Linked DNA regions of Homo sapiens: region 2 is linked to region 1. Evidence: fine-mapped expression QTL. A gene starts in region 1. The other region holds a variant in brackets. All regions are shown on one strand. Distances are between the middles of the regions. Region 1 holds the start of ULK3 (unc-51 like kinase 3). Region 2 overlaps COX5A (cytochrome c oxidase subunit 5A).

The links. PIP is the estimated chance that this variant, and not a neighbour inherited with it, causes the effect.
Region 2: its variant is fine-mapped to the expression of ULK3 in whole blood (TOPMed, PIP 0.98).

The regions. Positions count from the first base shown.
Region 1 is chr15:74,839,775-74,848,102 of GRCh38, reverse strand. ULK3 (unc-51 like kinase 3) reads left to right here and starts at 4,947. Exons shown (of 16, transcript NM_001099436.4): 1 at 4,947-5,099; 2 at 5,683-5,823; 3 at 5,908-6,028; 4 at 6,594-6,698; 5 at 7,462-7,605; 6 at 7,787-7,869. The coding sequence starts at 4,998. It overlaps SCAMP2 (secretory carrier membrane protein 2), which reads left to right. Exons shown (of 9, transcript NM_005697.5): 8 at 2,510-2,630; 9 at 2,886-4,373. The coding sequence ends at 3,020. It overlaps MIR6882 (microRNA 6882), which reads left to right and starts at 7,396; the gene lies at 7,396-7,461. RefSeq lists a silencer at 4,466-5,185 and enhancers at 4,448-5,359, 5,428-5,953.
Region 2 is chr15:74,929,298-74,937,625 of GRCh38, reverse strand. The region is part of intron 1 of COX5A (cytochrome c oxidase subunit 5A); the gene reads left to right. Among named protein-coding and RNA genes, the nearest start is that of COX5A, 4.6 kb to the left of the region's middle. The variant G/A (reference allele first, on the strand shown) is at 4,781.

The DNA.
Region 1 (8,328 bases):
GAGTGAGATCCTGTATCAAAAAAAAAAAAAAAAGACACTATCTTCCCTTGCTCTCCACTTTCCAGGGTATTGTGGGTGAACTTGGCTTGACTCTTTAGGCTACCATGACAGTGTCCTGCACTGGATTGCAGCCTCTTCCTTTTCTCCTGCCACACCCTCCTGAAAGCTGATGGATGCCCAGGCCTTTGCAGACTCTGAGCTGCAACTTTTTCCAGATGCCTTGTAACTTAAGGAGACGGTTCCCTCACCTCCCCTGGACAGGCTTCTTCTGGCTGCCCTCTTTGAGCATACGGCTGGTTTGAGTTTCCAGGGTACCTCAGTCCTCAGCTCAAAATTAATCTCAAAAGAAAAGCTGATGGCTGATGTTTTCCTTTCTGCCCCAGTGCACAGGGAGCATTGCAGAAAGGTCAGACTGGCACTTGGCTGACAGCCTGAGCCTGGAAGGGCGGTGCTATTTTGGTCCCCTCCCTCTGGCAGAGCTGGCAAGTCCAGAGCAGTGGGGAGAGAAAGGTTGCCTCCCCTTGCCCTCCAAACAAGTGCACGCTGCCCTCCCACCACCCCTCATGCTTCTTGCCCTGCTGTTGTTAATCTGGTCCCTTTTGACCAGTGACCCAATTTCATTACTCCTTACCTAAGTAAGACCCTGGTAGAAAAGCTGTGATTCATGACTGCCGTTTGCACCTGTACTGGGAATCAGAAGGCTTGAGTTGGCTGGGTGCGGTGGCTCATGCCTGTAATCCCAGCACTTTGGGAGGCCAAGGCGGGTGGATCACCTGAGGTCAGGAAGGAGTTTGAGACCAGCCTGGCCAACATGGCAAAACCTTGTTTCTAGAGAGTACAAAAATTGGCCAGGCGCATTGGTAGGTGCCTATAATCCCAGCTACTTGGGAGGCTGAGGCAGAAGAATCACTTGAACCCGGGAGGTGGAGGTTGCAGTGAGCCGGGATCACACCACTGTTCTCCAGCCTGGGCTACAGAGCAAGACTCAATCTCAAAAAAAAAAAAAAAAAAAAAAATTAACTGACAATAGGTGTATGGGTTTATTTCTGGAATCTCAGTTCTATTCCATTGATCTATTGATCTATATGTCTATGTTTATGCCAGTCCTACACTATTTTAGTGACTGTAGCTTTGTAGTAAGTTTTGATGTCAAGAAATATGAGGATATCCCTTTTACAGATGAGGACATGGGGCTCAGACAGGTGACAGCAAGTTGGCCAGTGATCCTCCTTCACAGAAGGTGGGTCCTCAGGAGTGAGCAGCCACGCTTTCCATACTCCCCACCCCCAAAGCAGCAGAAAAAGGCCCGGCCCAGTGCTACCTTTTTAATTAATTATTTTTTGAGATGGAGTCTCTGTTGCCCAGACTGGAGTGCAGTGCCGCGATCTCTGCTCACTGCAAGCTCCGCCTCCCAGGTTCACGCCATTCTCCTGCCTCAGCCTCCCGAGTAACTGGGACTATGTAGGTGCCTGCCACCATGCCTGGCTCATTTTTTGTATTTTTAGTAGAGATGGGGTTTCACTGTGTTAGCCAGGATGGTCTCGATCTGCTGACCTCGTGATCCGCCCATCTTGGCCTCCCAAAGTGTTGGGATTACGGGCTTGAGCCACTGTGCCCAGCCCTTTTTCTTTTTTCTTTTCTTTTTTTTTTTTTTTTGGAGACAGGGTCTCACTCTGTTGCTCAGGCTGGAGTGCCGTGGCGTGATCACAGCTCACTGCAGCCTTGAACCTCACGGGCTCAAGTGATCCTCCTACCTCAGCATCCCAAGTAGCTGGGAGCATAGGCATGTATGACCACAGCCAGCTAATTTTTTTTTTTTTTGAGTTGGAGTCTCGCCCTGTCACCTAGGCTGGAGTACAATGGCATGATCTCGGCTCACTGCAGCCTGCACCTTCCAGGTTCAAGTGATTCTCCTGCCTCAGTCTCCCGAGTAGCTGGGATTGCAGGCGTGTGCAACCACGCGCAGCTAATTTTTGTATTTTTAGTAGAGCAAGGTTTCTCCATGTTGGCCAGGCTGGTCTCAAACTCCTGACCTCAAGTGATCTGCCTTCCTTGGCCTCCCAAAGTGCTGGGATTACAGGCACGAACCTGGCCTTTTTTTATTTTTTATGGAGACAGGGCCTCCCTCTGTTGCCCAGGTTGGTCTTGAACTCTTGGGCTCAAGCGATCCTCCTGCCTCAGCCTCCCAAAGTGCTGGGATTACAGGTGAGAGCCATAGCACCCAGCCCGGTGCTACTTCTGACTCTGTGAAGGCAGCAACCACATCCTCCCTTTCAGACCTCACATAACCAGAAGATTCCCCTTGTGAATGGGGTAGTGTGGGCCTGTCAGCCTTCACGGAGGTCTGGCCTCACAGGCCAAGGGCTTCTGGCTCACAGGGCTCCCTGTGCTGTGGGGAGATGCCAAGGTGATGGTCAGGACACAGCAGCCACTTGGAGAAGAGCCCCTTATGCTGACTTTTGGAGCCCACTCCCACTTTGCTCCCTCTGGCCTCTTCTTCCCTTTATAGCGGTTGGATTGCAGCCCTGTCTACACTGGATAATCATTCCCTGGCCATATCAGTCATCATGATGGTGGTGGCTGGCTTCTTCACCCTCTGTGCCGTGCTCTCAGTCTTCCTCCTGCAGCGGGTGAGTGGTGTGGGCAGGGCTGACAGCAAATGGGAGGAGGCAGGCAACCGTTTCCTGCCCTTGCCACGAGATGTTTTTCACCACTGCAGTTGGGCATCCTAGGCCCCCAAAGGTCCAGTACCTTTCTCCAGGGATCTGGGTGGGGGGTCAGGCAGTGCCAGGCTTCTGGTGACCCCTTTGGGAGTATAACCTGGATGGCTGGCTTCCTGGTGGGCCCAAAGGACAGGCTTCTCTCACCCCACCCCTCTTCGCCAGGTGCACTCCCTCTACCGACGGACAGGGGCCAGCTTCCAGCAGGCCCAGGAGGAGTTTTCCCAGGGCATCTTCAGCAGCAGAACCTTCCACAGAGCTGCTTCATCTGCTGCCCAAGGAGCCTTCCAGGGGAATTAGTCCTCCTCTCTTCTCTCCCCCTCAGCCTTTCTCTCGCCTGCCTTCTGAGCTGCACTTTCCGTGGGTGCCTTATGTGGTGGTGGTTGTGCCCAGCACAGACCTGGCAGGGTTCTTGCCGTGGCTCTTCCTCCTCCCTCAGCGACCAGCTCTCCCTGGAACGGGAGGGACAGGGAATTTTTTCCCCCTCTATGTACAAAAAAAAACAAAGCTCTCTTTCCTTCTCTGGTGATGGTTTGGTAGGATTCTTTTGTCTCTGGAAGCAGTGGGACTGAAGTTCTCTTCGTCCTGTGCACACACAGACACCCCCACACAGTTGGGATCACAGGCTGACCTGGGCCCATCCCAGCTGGAGCTTTCTGCCAGGGTCCTGGGCCTTGACTCCCCCACCCTGCAGGCCTGGCCTGAATCTGGCTTCTTAGACACAGCCCAGTCCTTCCTGCCTGGGCTGGGAATAAGCCTCTCACAGGTTCTGGTGGACAGATCTGTTCCCCAGGTCACTCCAGTGGTCTCCAGGCTTCCAGAGAAGGCTGGTTGCCTCAAGCTCTTCTCTGCCTCATAAACGGATCCAGAGAAGGCTGGTTGCCTTAAGCTCTTCCCTGCCTCGTGTTCCTGAGAAACGGATTAATAGCCCTTTATCCCCCTGCACCCTCCTGCAGGGGATGGCACTTTGAGCCCTCTGGAGCCCTCCCCTTGCTGAGCCTTACTCTCTTCAGACTTTCTGAATGTACAATGCCGTTGGTTGGGATTTGGGGACTGGAAGGGACCAAGGACACTGACCCCAAGCTGTCCTGCCTAGCGTCCAGCGTCTTCTAGGAGGGTGGGGTCTGCCTGTCCTGGTGTGGTTGGTTTGGCCCTGTTTGCTGTGACTACCCCCCCCCCTCCCCGAACCGAGGGACGGCTGCCTTTGTCTCTGCCTCAGATGCCACCTGCCCCGCCCATGCTCCCCATCAGCAGCATCCAGACTTTCAGGAAGGGCAGGGCCAGCCAGTCCAGAACCGCATCCCTCAGCAGGGACTGATAAGCCATCTCTCGGAGGGCCCCCTAATACCCAGTGGAGTCTGGTTCACACCCTGGGGGGTGTGTCACTGTGATGGGACACGTAGGAGTCCACCCTTAAAACCAGCACCCTGTCCCTCGAGGCTGCCGAGTGGGTGTGTGGACTGGGGTGCCTTCCCACAAAACTAGCCTCCGGCTCTGGGCCCGAGACAGCCGCAGGCCCCAGCCACTGAATGATACTGGCAGCGGCTGGGGTTTTATGAACTCCTTTCTGGTATTTTTTCCCCTCTATGTACAAATGTATATGTTACGTCTCAATTTTTGTGCTTAAGTAAAAATAAAAACATTTTCAGACAACACGGGTCCACATGTCTGGTGGACTTGGGAGGACGGGGCAGCCCACAGGATTAGGGGCTGGGCGCCGCTGCTAAGATTGGAGAGCGGGGACAGTTAAGATGCAATAAATAGGTCAAGGCCCTTCCTCAGAAAAGTGAAAAGCAGCTGGGAGGCCTGGGAAGCCAACGCGGCCTCTTCCAAAGGCGCCTTCTCGTGCCAGTAGCTCTCCTTTCAGAGCTGCGGGTCCTGGGGAGGGGCCCTGGGAGCCTCCCGGACGCCGTCGCCCCCACACACGCCCGCTCCGCCGCCCGCGCCCTCACGTGGGCGATCTCTAGACGCCTCTGCGCCCGCTAGGAGTCCCCGGAGACCACGCCGGCCGTCCTCCGTTGTTAACTTCTAGGCTCGCGGGGCCTCCGTATCCCCACGTGGGCCCTGCAGGAACTGGCGGGGCGCGTGACCCGGCGAGGCCCAGAGACAGGGGAGGGGCGCCGGGAGCCGGGCGGATCCGCGTCCCCGATGCGCGCTGCATTTCCGGCGGGCGGCGCTGGGGGCAGCGTGGAGCCACCCAGTGCTCGGCCCGCCCCGCAACCCGCCGGAACCGCCGCCCGCAGCGAGGAAGCGCCCGCGCGGGCGCAGGCGGCCGGAATGGCGGGGCCCGGCTGGGGTCCCCCGCGCCTGGACGGCTTCATCCTCACCGAGCGCCTGGGCAGCGGCACGTACGCCACGGTGTACAAGGCCTACGCCAAGGTGGGTGCCGGCCGATGGCCCCGTGCCCGCCCGAGCTAGCTCGGCTGGTGCCGGCCGGGGAGACTCTGAGAGGTTAGCGACAGTGTGGGAATAGTTAGGGGCGGGAGGCCGGCCTCGCCCCAGCTGACCCTCGGCGGAGGTTGGAGCCGACTGCCACGCTTAGGTCTTAAAGAGCGCACCTGCACCCACCTGCAGGGTCAGTGGCTGAAGAACAGGCTCAAAACAGGTTACCTGGTGGGCTGGGAGGAGTCTGGGACTGGAGCCAGTTGGGAGGCAGAGTGGGCGGTTCTAGAACCCTGAGTGACATGCCTCTGCCGGGAGCACTCCAGAATGCAAAGAAATGGATCAGCTAGCCGAGGGTTGGAGAAGACCAGGCTGAGGCTGTGTCGGGAAGCCAGGATTCCAGAATCAGCATTCCTCACTGGCCTCACAAGGGAAAGCTGGGAAGCCCGGTGCTGGTGTGCAGTAGGTAGACCCGGGGAGGGGCGGGGTGGGGGAACAGAGGGAACCAGATAGAGCCTTTCCAGTCAGACAAGGGTCCTGGCCCCCTCAAGGCAGAGTCCCCAAATCTCCTGTCTCGCAGAAGGACACTCGTGAAGTGGTAGCCATAAAGTGTGTAGCCAAGAAAAGTCTGAACAAGGCATCGGTGGAGAACCTCCTCACGGAGATTGAGATCCTCAAGGGCATTCGACATCCCCACATTGTGCAGCTGAAAGACTTTCAGGTGTGAGCCTGGGGCGGGGCCGCTGCCAAAGGGAGCTGGAGAAGGGACACTCTCTTCAGGCCGCCTCTCTGCCTCTAAACACAGTGGGACAGTGACAATATCTACCTCATCATGGAGTTTTGCGCAGGGGGCGACCTGTCTCGCTTCATCCATACCCGCAGGATTCTGCCTGAGAAGGTGGCGCGTGTCTTCATGCAGCAATTAGGTAAAGGCCTGTGACACCAGCCTGACACTCTGTCCCTTGTTCTCTGCCCCCCACCATCCCACCCCTCCCCCAGGCTTAGAGCCTTGGCACGCATTGCAGCTGCCTCCTGCACAGCCTGAAATTTTATGGTCCTGTTTATCTCATACACTCAACCCTTGCTCAAGGACGCTGTGGGAGAGATGAGGGGGTAACCCCTCTGTGGGGTGTTCAGGCTTCCATACATAGAACATAATATAAGGACCTTGTAGAACATTCCAGAGTCCTGTAGGTAGGACTCAAGTGCTGTGCCAAGGAAAAGAGCAGGATCTCAAGGGCTGGGGCATCCAGAGAAGCTTCTGAGAGGTGGGGAGACTTGTGAAGGGGCAGAGGGAAGGAGGGTGGGCACTCGGGTGGGGTGGCAAACTCCTAGAAGTGGTGTGATCTTGGTGCTTATATGGAAAACATTAGACCAGCCAGGCAGGAACTGGGGTTGTGCAGGCTTGAGGAGGCAGATGTGAGCCGGGGAGGCGAGAGGCAGGCGGGAATGGGCTCTGAACTGTCTCTCTTCGTGGGTCCTGCTCCTCAGCTAGCGCCCTGCAATTCCTGCATGAACGGAATATCTCTCACCTGGATCTGAAGCCACAGAACATTCTACTGAGCTCCTTGGAGAAGCCCCACCTAAAACTGGCAGGTCTGTGTCTGAAACAGCAGGGATGAGGTTTGGAGAGTGCAGAGGCCTCCCTCTGCCTGGGCTCACTCAGCAGCCCTGGTTCTTATGGAGCCCTCTATAGAGTCCTCAAAGAGTGACAGGCCGTGAAGTCTGGGGTTGGGCCCTGTCATCAAAAGGTGGAAGCTTTCTCAGGCTACCCATGCTCAAGTCCAGCAGCATAATGGGTGGAGTTAGGGCTCAGTCTGTGGCCAGAGTTGGGACTCACTGTGTGTCCAGGTTTAGGGGTCAATCTGGGAACAGTGCCAGGGTTCAGCGTGTGACAAGCATCAGGGATCCCTCTGTGGGCAGGGACAGGACTTGGTCTGTCATCAGAATTGGGGCTCAAGTCTGTGACTCCATCTGTGGCCACATAGGAGGGGTGTGGTGGGGGAGTAGGAGGTGGTGACCCTTGATAAGATTTGGATAATTGACACTGGAGGCCAGAGACTGTGATAGAACCTAAGCCTGGGGGGACAGTGAGAGGGTGGGGGCTTATGCAGGTAGCTGGTGTGATCAGGTGGGCTTCCTAGGAAAAGGTGCCCAAGGGAGCTGGGAAGGATGGGTAGGTTTTATACCCCAGAGGCAGATATAGGAGGGTGTTCCAGCCTAATGATGAGCAGAGGCTTGGAAATAGGGTTGATCCTGGCGGGTCTGGAGGGTGGAGAGGAGCCTGGGGTGAGGCTTTACAAGTCAGGAGCTGAAGCAGCTGGAATTCAAGCCCTGCTGCCTCTCCTCTTGCCTGCAGACTTTGGTTTCGCACAACACATGTCCCCGTGGGATGAGAAGCACGTGCTCCGTGGCTCCCCCCTCTACATGGCCCCCGAGATGGTGTGCCAGCGGCAGTATGACGCCCGCGTGGACCTCTGGTCCATGGGGGTCATCCTGTATGGTGAGACCTCTTTTCCCTGCTTCTCACCCTGAGGCCTACAGTTTCCTCAGGCAAGGCCTCTCTGGGCCACTTCTGAAGGGTTCTGATGAAAACTGACTGCTGGCCCAGGGCCCCTGCTGAGGGGCGTCAGGCCAGGCTTGACCCATTCCCTCCCAGCCTCCGCTCTGCCTCCCTTCCACAGAAGCCCTCTTCGGGCAGCCCCCCTTTGCCTCCAGGTCGTTCTCGGAGCTGGAAGAGAAGATCCGTAGCAACCGGGTCATCGAGGTGTGTCTAGCAGGGCCTTAGCGACCACTGGGGGGCAGAGGGAGTCAGGGCCCTGAGGGTTTAGACCTCGTTCTGACCTGCAGAGACTGGAGTATGGGCTCCAGGCTGCCTTTGTGGTGGAGGGGCAGGTTCTAGGCTGGAAGTCGAGGTGCCAGGCTGTCCCAGGGCCTCAGGTCAGCCCACAGCTGGCAGCACAGTGCCCATTTTGCAGGCCCTTGTGGGGAGAATGCAAAGCAGAGCCAGGCCCAGCCTTCCTAGGAGCATAGTCCAGGGAGGGAAATAAGGACCCAGAAACACGATTCTAGCTCAGCTCAGGGCTCCAGCGAGGGTGCACCGGGAGCCCAGGGATGGAGGCCTCGCTCCCCGCTGGCTCCATCATCCTGACCCATCCTGTTCCTCCTCGGTCTCAGATTCCCCACCTGTCCAACGCGTACCTCTGGGGTTCCTCGCAGACCCCTG
Region 2 (8,328 bases), 90 kb before region 1:
GCCATGACCCTGCCCCAGCGCCGACCCTGCGGCCACCTGACCGAGAGTGGCCGCCGCCGGCCTGCAGCGCCTCGGCGAAGGTGACATTGAGCCTCCGGGCACGCCGCTTGGGGTCCGAGGACACAATATACTTCCGTATGGGACACACGATTATACTTTTCAATCAGGCATTTCTCGGTTAGCGATTAGTGTGTCACCTTCACAGCCTTTTCCATCATTTTTAGGGTCTGCTGTGCCACGTTCTAATTCTTCCACGTTTAAAATAGATGGAAGTGTGTGGTTGTTTCCTGATCTCCGGAAGATAGCCAGAGTTTTGATAGGGCTTATGATAAAAATATCACTCTTTTGAAAACTGAATGTCACAGACACAGGAATACTGGGTTTTACAAGCATAGGAACGCTTCGTGTTTTTTCCCCTTTGTAATAGAAGCCTGATTGCTGGAGTATGAGACGTGCTTCTGATTTTTGTCTATTTTCCTTCCCTTTATATGTGTGCTGGGAGGTTTTGAGTCCACCACCATAGAATAATTACAGTAATTGCACTTCGATCTTGGTCCGTGAAATTTAGCTTCTATGCATGCATATTATATTTTATTTTTGAACCTGCATCACTGGCAACTATGCATGCGTATTTAAACATAAGAACTCAGAAACTCGTTTCAGGGTATGCTGAAGTTAAAAATTAAAAAAAGAACTCAGCCGGGCGCGGTGGCTCATGCCTGTAATCCCAGCACTTTGGTAGGCCGAGGCGGGCGGATCACCTGAGGTCAGGAGTTCAAGACCAGCCTGGCCAACATGGTGAAACCCTGTCTGTACTAAAAATACAAAAAATTTAGCTGGGTGTGGTGGTGGGCGCCTGTAATCCCAGCTACTCGGGAGGCTGAAGCACAAGAATCGCTTGAACCTGAGAGGCGGAGGTTGCAGTGAGCCGAAATCGCGCCATTGCACTCCAGCCTGGCCGACAGAGCGAGACTCCGTCTCAAAAAAAAAAAAAAAAAAAAAAGAATATGTTTTGCTTCATTCATTTTAGACTTTTATCATTTGTCGTAGAACCATAAGGCTGGAGGGTACTTTATTTTTGTTTATTTATTTATTTTTAAATTAGAGACGGAGTGTCCCTATGTTGCCCAGGCTGGGCTTGAACTCCTGGGCTCAGGTGATCCTCCCACCTCAGCCTCCCAAAGTTTGGGATTATAGGCATGAGCCACTGCAGCCAACCTAGAGTGTACTTTAGAGATCGTGGAAGCCATTTTATTTTATAGAAAAGGAAACCAAAGTCCATCTTGGGAAACTGACTCCTTGTTTTTTTTTGTTTGTTTGTTTGTTTTTGTTTTGTTTTGTTTTGTTTTGTTTTTTCTTGAGACAGAGTTTCGTTCTTGTTGCCCAGGCTGGAGTGCAATAGCACGGTCTTGGCTCAAGCGATTCTCCTGCCTCAGCCTCCGGAGTAGCTGGGGTTACAGGCACCTGCCACCATGCCCGGCTACTTTTTGTGTTTTTAGTAGAGATGGGGTTTCACCATGTTGGCCATGCTGGTTTCGAGCTCGTGAGGTCAGGTGATCCGTCTGCCTCAGCCTCCCAAAGTGCTGGGATTACAGGCGTGAGACACCACACCTGGCCGAAACTGACTCCTTTTTAATGGTGGAACCATTTTTGTTTCTTATAGTTATGTTTGGGCCATCCTGATGTTTGTTTAGATTTTGTGTTTTGCTAAAGTAACAGTACAATTTACATTTTTCAGCCGGACACGGTGGCTCACGCCTGTAATCCCAGCACTTTGGGAGGTTGTGGCGGGTAGATTACCTGAGATCAGAAGTTCCAGACCAGCCTGAACATGGCGAAACCCAGTATCTACTAAAAATACAAAAATTAGCCGGGTGTGGTGGCACGCACACGTGGTCCCAGCTTCTTGGGAGGCTGAGGCATTAGAATTGCTTGAACCCGGGAGGCAGAGGTTTGCAGTGAGCCGAAATCATGCCATCTCAAAAAAAAAATTTTTTATTTATTTATTTATTTATTTTTTTTTTTTGGTGATAGTCTCACTGTGTTGCCTAGGCTGGAGTGCAGTGGCACCATCACAGCTCACTGCAGCCTTGACCTCCTGGGACTCAACTGATCCTCCTGCCTCCACCTTCCAAGTAGCTGGGACCACAAGGGTGCGCCACCAGTTTTATTTTCCGTAGAAACAGGCTGGTCTGGGGACTCCTGGGCTCAGGAGTGCCTCCCTCCTCCCACCTTCCAAAGTGCTGGGATTACAGGTGTGAGCCACCATGCCCAGCCAAATTTTTCTTTTTCTTCTTCTGTTGTTGTGGTTTTGTTTTGTTTTTGTTTTTGTTTTTGAGACAGGGTCTCGCTCTGTCATGCAGGCTGCAGTGCAGTTGGCACAGCTCACTGCAGCCTTAACCTCCTGGGCTCAAGCCATCCTTCCACCTCAGCCTCCCAAAGTGCTGGGATTACAAGCGAGAGCCACTGCACCCAGCCTCAGTAACTCGTTAATGTGCCCTCATTCCTACAGTTACCACCACCAAAGTGTTCATTCTTTGGGCCTGTCAGGGTTGATTATTTATTAAATGGAAAACTATCCGATTTAACTAAATTTAAACCCAAAGGATCAATGAGCCCTTTTATTTTTCTATATATGTTAGCCTTTTTTGTTTTTAAATGGAGTGCTTAACTGAATGCCAAAAAGCAGTGTTAGAAATAGCTTTTTAGGATGAAGCCCTAAAAATGTCCTCATTTTTCACAGCTGCTTCTTTTTTCTTACTTTGGGACTTTCAGGTTACGTAAAAGCTCTGAGTAATTGTTTTCCAAAATAATTTGCCTTTCAAGCTTCAATACTAGGTGGAGATCCTGTTCTTAAGTGGGGTGGGGTGTGTGGGGCAGAGAATGCTAGTAGAGTTTACCTAAAAAAAGTTAAGCATGTGGGGGATGTGTCCATAGCTAATAGAATAGATCCTGCTTTACCCATTATTGGATTTAACAATATAATTTAAATCATGGCCGGGCATGGTGGCTCACGCCTGTAATCCCAGCACTTTGGTAGGCTGAGGCGGGCGGATCACAATGTCAGGAGATCGAGACCATCCTGGCTAACGCGGTGAAACCCCGTCTCTACTAAAAATACAAAAAAATTAGCCGGGCGTGGTGGCGAGTGCCTGTAGTCCCAGCTGCTGGGAAGGCTGAGATAGGAGAATGGCGTGAACCTGGGAGGCGGAGCTTGCAGTGAGCTGAGATTGCGCCACTGCACTCCCGCCTGGGCGACAGAGTGAGACTCCATCTCAAAAAAAAAAAAAAAATTTAAATCACGTGGGGAGAGTCTGTTTTAGCCCTTCAGAAAGGGATGTATGGGTTTTTAAATTTTTATTTATTTTAATTTGTTTGATATAGAGTGTTGCTCTATCACCTAGGCTAGAGTGCAGTGGCGCAGTCATAGCTCACTGCAGCCTTGTTGCCCTGGGCTCAAGGGATCCTCCCGCCTCAGCCTCCTGAGTAGCTGGGACCACCAAACCCCGCTAATTTTTTAAGTTTTTTGTGGAGAATGGAGGTCTGTCTTTGTTGCCCAAGCTGGTCTCTCAGTCCTGGCATCAAGCGATCCTGCCTTGGCCTCTCAAAGTTCTAGTTCTGTTTTATAAAAGACTTTTTGGAATACAACCAGTTTGTAATTTGGCTTCCAGAAGACATATGATCAAATCCTTGAAGGTGGTGATCTCCTTGACTTGGATTTGCTGTTGGTGGTCATCTTATTCACAGTTAGGAAACAAAGCCTAGCACTCATGTAGTCAAATCCATGCCCAGCAGTGAACAAAACGAATTGCTTATCATGAAGCACTGTTGTGGATGGGACAGGTAATTACCTCTGGGGAAGGAGTACATAGACCTTTCATTGGGTAAATACTTAGGAGTGGAATTACTGTGTTATATGGTAGGTTTGTGTTTAACTTGATAAGAAACTGCTTAAACCGTCTTCCAAAGTGATTGTATCATTTTATACTTGCACTTTCAGTATTCAGTTAAGGCTAGCTTTAGTTTTTGAAGAGGTGGCTTATAATTTTTTCTTTTTTGAGACAGGGTCTCACTCTGTCTCCGAGGCTAGTGCCACTGCATCTGGCCCTAAGTTCTTGATAATAGTGCATTAGATGGTTGTTCTAATCTATGTTTTTACATAGATAGATAGATAGATAGATAGATAGATAGATAGATAGATAGATATTTTTTTTTTTGAGACGGAGTCTTGCTCTGTCGCCCAGGCTGGAATGCAGTGGCACGATCTTGGCTCACTGCAACCTCCCTGGGTTCAAGCTATTCTCCTCCTTCAGCATTCCAAGTAGCTGGGACTACAGGGGTGTGCCACCACGCCTGGCTAATTTTTTGTATTTTAGTAGAGACAGGGTTTCACCATGTTGGCCAGGCTGGTCTTGAACTCCTGGCCTCAAGTGATCTGCCTGCCTCAGCCTCCCAAAGTGCTGGGATTACAGGTGTGAGCCACCGCACCTGGCCTTGTTTTCTGATATATTAAATTTGAATATTAGTCTTGTAAGACTTATTAAATATCCACGTAGTTTTGATTAAATGTTCATACTTACCAGACATATTTAGGTGTAGAGATCCATTTTTTTCTTGTTGTAGAAATTAAGGCTGGGCACCGTGGCTCATGCCTGTTATCCCAGCACTTTGGGAGGCCGAGGCAGGCAGATCATGAGGTCAAGAGTTCGAGACCAGCCTGACTAACATGGTGAAACTTTGTGTCTACTAAAGATACAAAAAATTAGCCTGACATGGTGGC[G/A]CATGCCTGTAATCCCAGCTACTTGGGAGGCTAAGGCAGGAGAATCACTTGAACCCGGGAGGTGGAGGTTGCAGTGAGCCGAAATCGTGCCATTGCACTCCAGCCTGGGCGACAGGGTGAGACTCTGTCTCAAAAAAAAAAAAAAAGAAATTAAAACGTGTTCACTTCTAGTCCATTTATGTACATGTTCCACTTCATTCTGGGCTTGGATTATGTAGGTAATTTAGGTCTCTGGGAAGATCTTTTCTGCTTCGTTTTTTTGCTACTCTTCCTCCTGCCAGTTACTGCATTAAAGATATATAGGATATTACTAATGTTTAAATTTCAGTGTTCTTAGAACAACAATGTTGAGAGGTTTCTGGGTGAAGTTTTTAAAAATATATATATATGTATGTTAAGGCTGGGCATGGTGGCTCACACCTGTAATTCTAGTATTTTGGGAGTGGTAGGATTGCTTGAGGCTAGGAGTTTAAGACCACCCTGGGCAACATATCAAGACCCCCATCTCTAAAAGTAAATAAATAAAAATATGTTAAGCCTTAAACAACTGGAAGTTACACCACACTTATCTAATACAGGTAGTAGGAAATGTGATTTGAGATAGGTTTCATTTCTTTAAGTTATGATTTCTATAAATAGACAACTAAGACGTTTTTAGATAAGGGTTAGTTTATAGCTACCATTTGTTTAATACTTACCAGTGCATAGTGTTAACCTACCTGTTTTCACATTTAATCTTCATAATCTGCTAAGGGGGGTAGCGTCCCCATTTTACAGATAAGGAAAATAAACTTAAGTTAATTTTCCAGGGTCAAACAGAGAGAGCGAAGAGCCTAGAGGTATCTGAGTGCTAGGTTGTGCTGCATTCAATACCCAAAGATAAAATTTTCTGCCTCCGCCTATCCCCCTACCTGTTCCAGAGGCTGTTCAGAAGGAATTCAGATTTCCAAACTCAATTCAGTGTCCATTTGACAAGAAGAAAGAAAAAATGGGGCTGGGTGCAGTGGCTCGCGTCTGTAATCCCAGCACTTTGGGAGGCTGAGGTGGGCAGATCACTGGAGGTCAGGAGTTCGAGACCAGCCTGGGCAATGTGGTGAAATCCCGTCTCTACTCAAAATACAAAACTTAGCCAAGCTTAGTGGCGCTCGCCTGTAGTCTCAGCTACTCAGAAGGCTGAGGCAGGAGAATCACTTGAATCCAGGAGGCAGAGGTTGCAGTGAGCTGAGATTGTTCCACTGCATTTCAGCCTGGGTGACAGAGTGAGACTCGATCTCAAAAAAAAAAAAAAAAAATGGAAATGCTTTTCATACAGTACTCTATGTAAACATCATTTCTTTTTTTCTTTGAGACAGAGTCTTGCTGTGTCGCCCAGGCTGGAGTACAATGGCATCATCTCACCTCACCTCAACCTCCGCCTCCTGGGTTCGAGTGATTCTCCTGCCTCAGTCTCTCGCGTAGCTGAGATTACAGGCGCCCGTCATCACGCCCAGCTAATTTTTGTATTTTTAGTAGAGACGGAGTTTCACAATGTTGATCAGGCTGGTCACAAACTCCTGAACTCAGGTGATCCACCAGTCTCAGCCTCCCAAAGTGCTGGCATTACAGGTGTGAGCCACTGCGCCCAGCCCAAAATATTCCTAGTAAAACAGTATTATTTTGCATTAGGTGTAGATTAGAGTGTACGTTCCCTTAGGGGATTTATCAGAATATTTTGGGAAGGGGCTGTAGTTTGATAAAGCAATTTGTATGTGTAATTTGTCAGGATGTGTAATTTATTTTGGAATATAATAACATGAGAATTTTTTTTTTTTTTTTTTTTTTTTTTTTTTGAGACAGAGTCTCGCTCTGTTGCCCAGGCTGGAGTGCAGTGGCGTGATCTCTGCTCACTGCAAGCTCCGCCTCCTGGGTTCACGCCATTCTCCTGCCTCAGCCTCCCAACTAGGTGGGACCACAGGCGCCCGCCACCACACCTGGCTAATTTTTTGTATTTTTAGTAGAGACGGGGTTTCACCGTGTTAGCCAGGATGGTTTCGATATCCTGACCTGGTGATCTGCCCATCTCGGCCTCCCAAAGTGCTGGGATTACAGGCGTGAGCCACCAAGCCCGGCCCGAGATTTTTTTTTTTTTAATGTGTGAATGAAGTATATAAGTTTATTTAAGAACTTGAATGGTGCCAGGGCTGGTGGCTCACACCTGTAATCCCAGCACTTTGGGAGCCAAGGGAGGAAGGAATGCTTGAGCCCAAAGAATTTGAGGCTGCAGTGAGCTGTGATTGCGCCACTACACTCCAGCCTAGGCAACAACAGAGCGAGAGCCTGTCTCAAAAAAAAGAACTTGAATGGACATTAGTATTGCTCTTAGTTTTTTTTTTTTGTTGCTTTTTTGGTTTTTTTTGTTGTTGTTGTTTATTGTCTTTTTTTTTTTTTTTGAGGCGGAGTCTCGCTCTGTCGCCAGGCTGGAGTGCAGTGGCACAATCTTGGCTCACTGCAACCTCCGCCTCCTGGGTTCAAGCAATTCCCCTGCTTCATCCTCCCGAGTTGCTGGGACTACAGGCACGCGCCACCACACCCAGCTAATTTTTATACTTTTAGTAGAGATGGGGTTTCACCATGTTGGCCAGGATGGCCTTGATCTCTTGACCTCTTGATCCACCCGCCTCAGCCTCCCAAAGTGCTGGGATTACAGGCGTGAGCCACTGCGCCCGGCCTAGTCTTAGTTTTTTAGTTTTTGTTTTTGTTTTTGTTTTTGTTTGTTTGTTTGTTTTTTGAGTTGGAGTCTTGCTCTGTCGCCCAGGCTGGAGTGCAGTGGTGTGATCTCAGCTCACTGCAACCTCCGCCGTCCAGGTTCACGCCATTCTCCTGCCTCAGCCTCCCGAGTAGCTGGGACTACAGCCGCCCGCCACCACACCTGGCTAATTTTTTGTATTTTTAGTAGAGACGGGGTTTCACCGTGTTAGCCAGGATGGTCTTGATCTCCTGACCTCGTGATCCGCCTGCCTCGGCCTCCCAAAGTGCTGGGATTACAGGCGTGAGCCACTGCGCCTGGCCTATTCTTAGTTTTTAGAAGTGGGGTGTCGCTGTGTTGCCCAGGCTGGAATGCAATGGCTATCTTATCAGGTTCTGTCATATTGTTAGCACCCTACGACCTTGAACTCCTGGGCTCGGGTAATCTTCCTGCCTCAGCCTCTGAGTAGCTGGCACTACAGGTGTGTGCCCCACTATGCCCACCTGGGACATTTTTACTTAGGAATTAATACTCTGGTTATGTGTAAAAATTCAAACAATATGGAAGTATATAAAGTAGTTTTTACGTCCCATGATAATCACTGTTAATTTAAAATCAGAGGGAACCACTGTTAATAATTTCAAGCGAGTATTATACATTAGGGAGAAAAGTATAAACATGCCTATGTAATACTTTTTGTTCTACTTGATTTTATTTGCTTAATTTAAAATATATCTTTCTGTATCAATGTATACGATGTATTTCATTTGACCTGTTCAATATTTTTGCTGCCACAACATATATAGTCAACTCAAAATTTAAT